2 linked regions of the Homo sapiens genome follow. The protein of the gene in region 2 interacts with the protein of the main gene of each other region in a biochemical or structural test. Each region holds a gene or a part of one and is shown on either strand. Other genes may lie near its edges.

Region 1 (3,914 bases), on a different chromosome or scaffold from region 2:
AAACACTACTTCCAGAAGATTTAGAGACTAGCATAAAATAGATTAAAATCTGTTTAGCTAAAAGGCTTGTCCAAAATAATGGTCTTGTAAAAACAGGAGACATACTTTTAACAAAATTCTTAGTTTTTACTGTTCCCAGCCCAAAGGTTTCAAGCATGTATTTTTTAATGTAAAAACCATTTTGCCTAGAAACCACCAGAATTTTACTTCATAAGCATTACTGTGTTAAAATGTCTACTTCCGAACTTCCTACCTTCACCATGTGCTCCCTTAGAATGTATGTGGAGAGACGCGCTGGTGACAGGCTGAGATGGCTGGGCATACTGCGAGGGCAATGGAGGAGGAGGGGGAGTGGCCTGGATGGGTTCATAGCGTTTCTCGCCAAATGATCTATCCACACCATCAGCTTCAGGAGGCTTTCCCCTGTTAACAAATGAAGAAAATGCCAACACCTGAAAATGGACTCACATTTACAAAACAAGTTCTCATTTCTCCATGTATCTCTAAGTTAAAAAAAAAAACTAGAAATTTCACAATTTATTCTCATGAGTATGGGTAGCTACTCTACCAAAATATAAAAACAGATTCGACCATTCATCGGCACAAGAAATGTCCAGACACACAAAAACTTTAAGAATATTAGTAAAACATCCAGAAGATGGCAACCAAAGGCAGGTGAAATTTTGGGTATAGTTTAATTGTTATTTACAAAAGATAGTAATGTTGACAGATTTAAGAAAGTCTTGCAAATATTCTGAAAACATATCATGGCACAAATTTTCCTGAGACCCACTTTTTTTGTTTTTGAGACAGGGTCTCATTCTGTCGCCCAGACTGGAGTGCAGTGGCGCGATCTCAGTTTACCACAACCTCTGCCTCCCAGGCTCAAGTGATTCTTCTGCCTCAGCCTCCCGAGTAGCTGGGATTACAGATGCCAGCCACCACGCCTGGCTAATTTTTGTACTTTTAGTAGAGATGGCGTTTCACCACGTTGTCCAGGCTGGTCTTGAACTCCTGACCTCAAGTGAGCCGCCTGCCTCTGCTTCTTAAAAGTGCTGGGATTACAGGCATGAGCCACCGCACCCGGCCCTAGACCCACTTCTGATTTTGTATCTGGCATCTGGCATACTCGGAGCACCATAAAAACAGATGTCACAGACTAGGGGTTGGCAAACTTTTTCACTGAAACACCAGAGAGTAAATGTTTGTGGTCTTTTGGCCCATACAGTCTTTGTTAGAACTATTCAAATTATGCGGTTATAGCCTTGAAGCAGCCACAGACAATGGGCATATCTGCGTTTCAGTAAAACTAAAAAAACTGGAGCTTTTACTTTAAAATTTCCCCTTGAGTTACCAGGTCCATTTTTTGGTTAAATGACTGCTAGAGCAGCAGATCCTGCTTTATTTTACAAGGTTCATTTAAGTCAAATTGTGCCATGTATGTTTATTTTTTCAGATTGCCAATTGTTAATATGTAACACAAAATTCACACAAATCTTTTTAAAAGACCCATAATTGCAACATTGCCATCTAAACCTTACTGCTGAATGCCAAAGCTGCACTAGCTTTATGTGCACCAACAATAACATATACATTTGGAATACTCCTGGTCATTTTCATAAATTTTCATTGAAGAAGTCTTATGATTGGCTTTTTTATCTTGCTTTCATGAATTTAGACTAAGCCCTTGATGATGACATTAAAATCTGAAAGTGCACATAATGCCAGTGACACAGTGAGGGACACCTTATGGAACAGCCTCACATTAATTGCCAGTCTTACCACTTGACGTTCCTTTTCAAGTAGTCATAGCTAGTGTAAGAGCCAAGAAATCTAGGTGATGGCAAAGCAAGCGCAATAGAAAAATGAAAGAAAATGGTCAATCTAACTAAGTAAATTTGCAGCAAATGGAACTCAAATGTCATTTAAAAATATCAACCAACATCCACCATTTCACCATAATTTGGTCTATAAAGGAACATATCACTAACTCTCATTTGGCCAAGGAAATTGAAGATAAATAAAACACAATCACTTAGTTATGTCCCGTCTGCTGGCCCATCCTTCATGTACTTTAACTGTTACTGCAGTGAAAAGCAATGTGTTTGAACTTTGCTCCTTCTCCACCTCTGTTGCAGCTGCTAATAGTGAGCAAAGAAATTTATCAAATCAAAGAGTGGTGATCAAGGATAATTAGCAGGTTCTGAATAAGTGGGAGTGACATGTCCCATTAAAAAAAAAAAAAAAAAGGCTGGGCAAAGAAATTCTGCAAGTGAAGACACAGGAAAAAGTAACACAACAGAAGAGCTACATTGAGCCCCTGGGAGGGGAATGGTAAATGGAGAGATAGAAATATGCCTGGCTTGAAACCTGGCCAGGCTTCACATGTTCCTTTCTAGCAAGACCTCCTCCATCTCCAATCGTAAGCTGGGCCCTGTGGTGGTGGAGTCTTACTGGTGAAGCTGCATGCTTGATGCTCAGGCTCTCTCTCATCTAATGATGTCTCACAAACACAAAAACAACTGAACATCAGTCTCTCACATTTAGTTCTTTAAAAGCTACAAACCACCATCATTTATTGAGACCTGGAAGTCTCACATAGTGAGTTGAGTCCTGAAAGGTAGATTTGATAACAAAAAATCCCTGGTTGTCCTGAAGAAGTTGACTCAATCTCTGGACTGAGACATGTGCACAGCCCTGGAGGGACACTGCTCTTCTTGCACTGTTTTAGAATCCTGGAAACTTCTAATTTACTTTGGAGGTGAATGTCTAAGCTACTGTCTCCTAACCTTTCCAGTTCTAATCCAGCTCTATGGAACTGTTAGACTGGGTAATATCTGCTTGCTTCCTGGGGCATCTGTCCTGTGCTAACAAAGATTATTTTCCATATCTAATTCTCACCATTTCTGAGGTGTGTTTTTAAGTGAAGCATAAGCACACATCATCTGAAGGAAGAAAATTTTGCTACTCCTGTATTTACTGAAAGAAAGAAATGCCTGAAGGCAGTCTTATTTAGTGACAAACAGTAAATGGTTTTGAAATGCAGGACAGAATCCTATATTTTAAGCTATTTTCCAGTTGATGAAGTTGTACTCATTGGACAAGAGTATGAAAAAGCATTACAAGGGAAACTTACAGAAACAACTACCCTCTTAGTTATCTTCCATGACCCTTATTCTCCTTTCCATTTCTCTAACCATTAAATACCTATATGGGAAAATGCAGCACAATTATAAAGAGTTTCAATTTCACACTACAAAGGAAAAAAAAGTATACTGGTATCCAGCCCAAACTATACTTTTCTCTCTCACAGCAGCAGGGAGTAAAATCAAACTGAGTTCTGAGTAAATTCACAAAGACAGATGTCATCTGTTTCACAATATATCCCTGTGAAAACAATGACCAGGTAATACAGGTTCCTTCCAGAGCTGTGTTAATGAAAAGAAGGGTGGTGGATGCACCTAGTATACCATGCCCTGTTTTGAGCTTCATTCACTCAACAATTACTGAGCCCCTACTGCATGCAAGGCAATGTTCTACACCCTAAAGTTATACATCACAAATAAGCTAAGTCTTCTTTCTAGAAAAACAAATTAACACAGAAAGCAAACATGCATTTTGATTGATTCCCTGGCAAAACAACTTACTTTTTAGACCTAAATATACTCCTTTTTTTTTTTGAGATGAGTCTGGCTCTGTCGCCCAGACTGGAGTGCAGTGGCGCGATCTCGGCTCATTGCAAGCTCCGCCTCCCGGGTTCATGCCATTCTCCTGCCTCAGCCTCCAGAGTAGCTGGGACTACAGGCACCTGCCACCATGCCCAGGTAATTTTTTGTATTTTTAGTAGAGACAGGGTTTCACCATATTAGCCAGGATGGTCTCGATCTCCTGACCTCATGATCCACCCACCTCGG
Region 2 (3,914 bases):
TTAAATTACAAAACAGAAACCACAAAGAAGGAAGAGGAAAAACCCCAGGACTTCCAAGGGTGAAGCTGTCCCCTCCTCCCTGCCACCCTCCCAGGCTCATTAGTGTCCTTGGAAGGGGCAGAGGACTCAGAGGGGATCAGTCTCCAGGGGCCCTGGGCTGAAGCGGGTGAGGCAGAGAGTCCTGAGGCCACAGAGCTGGGCAACCTGAGCCGCCTCTCTGGCCCCCTCCCCCACCACTGCCCAAACCTGTTTACAGCACCTTCGCCCCTCCCCTCTAAACCCGTCCATCCACTCTGCACTTCCCAGGCAGGTGGGTGGGCAAGGCCTCAGCCATACTCCTGGGCGCGGGTTTCGGTGAGCAAGGCACAGTCCCAGAGGTGATATCAAGGCCTACCCGGAACAGAGGAGATGCAGGCAGACAGAGTGGGGAAAATGTAAATGGGGACAGTGGCCAACGCCGATGCAGGCAGATCCCAAAGTCAGGGTTAAGCTATCCTGGCCAGCAGAAGCCAGCTCCCCACTCCACCACCACACCCTGTCACTTCCGTCCCTCCCCAATATCCAGAGGAGGGTGGACTCTGTTCTTGCTAGCAGGAGGCGGCCTTGGGAAGTTGTCCGAGTGGGCCAGAGAGGCTGAAGGCTGCTGCCTTCCTGCCTGGCTCAGTCTCTGCCCAGTCCCCAGTCCCCAGCAGCCAGTGGCCCGTGGCAGGGCCCTCCTGGGGTCACAGCCTGCGCTGAGCTCAGTCCAGGGAAGAACAAAGCAGAGAGGAACAGAGTGGAGCCGTGGCACCTTACACGTAGTTGCTGGCAGCAGCAGAGCGGGCAGCAGAATACTTGGCGGAGTAAGGCTTGTCTGTGCGGGGTGGACAGTTGCAGCAAAGCAGCCCCCCGCCAAGGAGCAGCAGGCCGGAGGCGGCCCAGCCGACGTAGAGCGAGGCACCCATCTCCCGCTTCTGCCCGGAGGCCACCAGCGGATTGTAGAAGTCTTGGATGATGTTGTGGGCCGTCCAGGACACCGGCACTATCACCATAAGGCCGGCCAACAGGAACACCACGCCCGCCACGATCATGGTCTTGGCCTTGGCGCTTTCATCCTCCAGGCAGTTGGTACACTTGCCCCCCACCACGGACAGCAGCACGCCCAGAGCAGCCACGATGATGCTGATGATGACGAGGGCGCGGGCCGCCTGCAGGTCCTGCGGCAGTGCCAGCAGCGAGTCGTACACCTTGCACTGCATCTGGCCGGTGCTCTGCACCACGCAGTTCATCCATAGGCCCTCCCAGATGGTCTGCGAGGTGACAATGTTGCTGCCGATGAAGGCCGTCACGCGCCACATGGGCAGCGCGCAGCACAGCATGACGGCCAGCCAGCCCAGGACGGCCAGCGCGATGCCCATTACCTGTAGCCCCATGGAGGCCATTGTTCAGCGTCCACGGGAGTTGAGGACCTGGAAGGCTGAGGGGATCCGGCTGTGGGGGCCGTAGGATTCCAAGCGCTGGGGACGGACTTAACGTTCGCAGAGTGCACCTTTGCACCGTGAGTCAGGAGATAAAGCCAGTCCTGATGCGCAAGCCAGCAAGTGTGAGCAGACCAGTTCCTTCCAGCCGACAGCTGCCAGGGCACTCTCTCTCGGGGACAGGTTGAGCAGTTATATGGCTCTGGCAGAGGGGCGGGGGCAGAGGGAGGGGTTTTTGTCACTGGGGCCTCCTCCTGACCAGTTTCTCTGGATTCCTGAGCCCAGGCCAACAAAGGCACTTTTGAGGCCCCAGCCCCGGGTCCCTGAGTCACTATCCAGTCTCAGAAGAAACTACTCTCTCCCCTTCCTCAAAGCCCATGCTGAGGTCACCCGGGAGACAGACACTGAATCACAGCCCAGGGACAGCTGGATGTTCACAGGTTAAGGCCAGGGGGCAACCAGACCCAGCCAGGTTTGGGAGCCTGAAGACCAGGGTCCCCACAGGCCAGTGCCCCCTCATTCCAGGCTTAGGTGGGAGGACAGGGTGGGGACCCTGAGGGAGAGAATTTGAGAATGAAGTCTTGGAAACGTCCACGAGAAACCCCACCTTGATTATTGTCATTTCTTGTCCTTACCAGTTTCATCACTGGCAGTTTCACGACTGTTGTGAGTATGATCACTCATGCATCTGGCCTCACCAGCAGTCTTTGCGGCATTGGCCGGATAAAGTTACGTGTAGGGGAGTGAGGAGCCGGGAGGCCAGGACTCCGGGGTACATCACCCACTCTCACCCATCCTTATCACCCAGCTTCTCTGCTTGGCTAGAAGAGGGGCCTTGGACATGATGCACCTTCAGCCAAAAAGAGACAGAAGCCTGTCCCCTCTCCACCTCCATGGAAGTTTAGGCTGGTGGGCTCTGTTCCTGCCGGGATCCAGCCTGCTTGCCCAGAACTGGGTGGGGCCAGTCACCAACGACAAACATGAACTAGATCCTGGAGACATCATCACCCCAGTAAATGGGTGTTTACCCTGTGGAGACATACAAAGCCTTCCAATAAAGCCAGAGTGGGTGCAAAGTCCCATGAGATTTCAAAGGGAAGGGGAACTCTTCCAGGGTGGAGGTGGTGGTGCTGAGGGAGCTTGACTGCAAAGGGGTGCTGTGTGGCACAACTCCAGGGGGCGCCGGATTCTTGGAGTATGCTACAGAAGGCATCGTGAACAGGTCCCCCAGAAAAGTTTTGCAAGGCAGTGGGACAGGCTGAAGGAGGACGTTCTGGTAGACGGTGGGCCAGGCTGGACAAATGCAGCTCATTCTGGGATGACAGCCCTCAGGAGAGATGTGCAAGGCAGCGAGGCTAGTGAAGGAGGACATTCAGGCAGAGAGAACAAGGGCAGAGGTGGCAAGGTGGGGAAAGGCAGCTCGTTCTGGGAACAGCCAGGAATCCAGTTTGACCAGAGACTGGGCTGGGGAGGGAGGGACCAAAGTAAAAGGGTCAGAAATTTCTGCCTGGAATGTCACCAAGCCCTGGAAGATAGAGGGAGGGTGGAGGGTCTAGGATCAGGAAGAGCTTGGTTCAGGGCAGATGACTGAGGGGACCTCTGGGAAGGGGTCATCGTGGGGGTGATTGAGAGTGTCTAGGGCTCATCCCAGCCGCACCGAGGGAGCTCCTCCTCACCCGCCGTGTGGTCATTTTGCATCTCTCTTCCCAACCATGCTGGGAGCTCTGCAGGGGCCAGGGCTCCAGTGTGTCCCTGAGCCGCCGCCATTGTCCAGCACTGGTGGCTGTGTGTCCAGTTCTGACCCAGAAGGATGCATAGTCCTTGAGCTTCCTGAGGGAAAGTCTTCAAGAGTGCCATGGTTTGGGTTAAAGCAATCAGTGAGTACCCATGGGAGGTATTTGAGATGGATCTGTTGACCGGCTAATGAAGCACAGGGCAGGCTGGGACAATCTAGCATGGTCCACCTGTGTTACAGACGGGAAGTTGAGGCCTGGTATTGTGGTTAACTCTATACACATCCGTCTTCCCTGCTAGCCTGGGGCTCCTAGAAGACAGGAACAATGCCTTCTGCAACCTCAGTGCCCAGCATCTGGCTTGATACATCACAGATGCTCAAGAAATGTGAGGAGTGGTTGCTGCGGCTCATGCCTATAATCCCAGCACTTTGGGAGGCCAGGATGGGAGGATCGCTTAAGGCCAGGAGTTTGAGGCTGCAGTGAACTATAATCGCACCATTTCACTCCAGCCACGGGCAACAGAGCAAGACTCTGTCTCAAAAGAAAAGAAAAAGAAATGTTTGGGCCGGGTGCAGTGGCTCACACCTGTAATCCCAGTACTTTCGGAGGCCAAGATGGGCAGATCACGAGGTCAGGAGTTAGGCCAACATGGTGAAACCCCATCTCTACTAAAAAATACAAAAATTAGCTGGGTGTGATGGCGCACGCCTGTAATCACAGC

What was found.
Region 1: the proteins of CLDN4 (region 2) and TJP1 form a complex in vitro, tested with the Homo sapiens proteins (2 studies listed by BioGRID and IntAct, with this or other methods).

Annotation. Positions count from the first base shown.
Region 1 is NC_000015.10:29,710,578-29,714,491, forward strand, and holds part of TJP1 (tight junction protein 1), read right to left. Parts: intron 1,834-3,914; coding exon of another isoform or gene 1,783-1,833; intron 424-1,782; coding exon 254-423; intron 1-253. UniProt on the Homo sapiens protein: TJP1, TJP2, and TJP3 are closely related scaffolding proteins that link tight junction (TJ) transmembrane proteins such as claudins, junctional adhesion molecules, and occludin to the actin cytoskeleton.
Region 2 is NC_000007.14:73,828,709-73,832,622, reverse strand, and holds the start of CLDN4 (claudin-4), read right to left. Parts: upstream 1,628-3,914; 5' UTR 1,422-1,627; coding exon 792-1,421; 3' UTR 1-791. UniProt on the Homo sapiens protein: Can associate with other claudins to regulate tight junction structural and functional strand dynamics.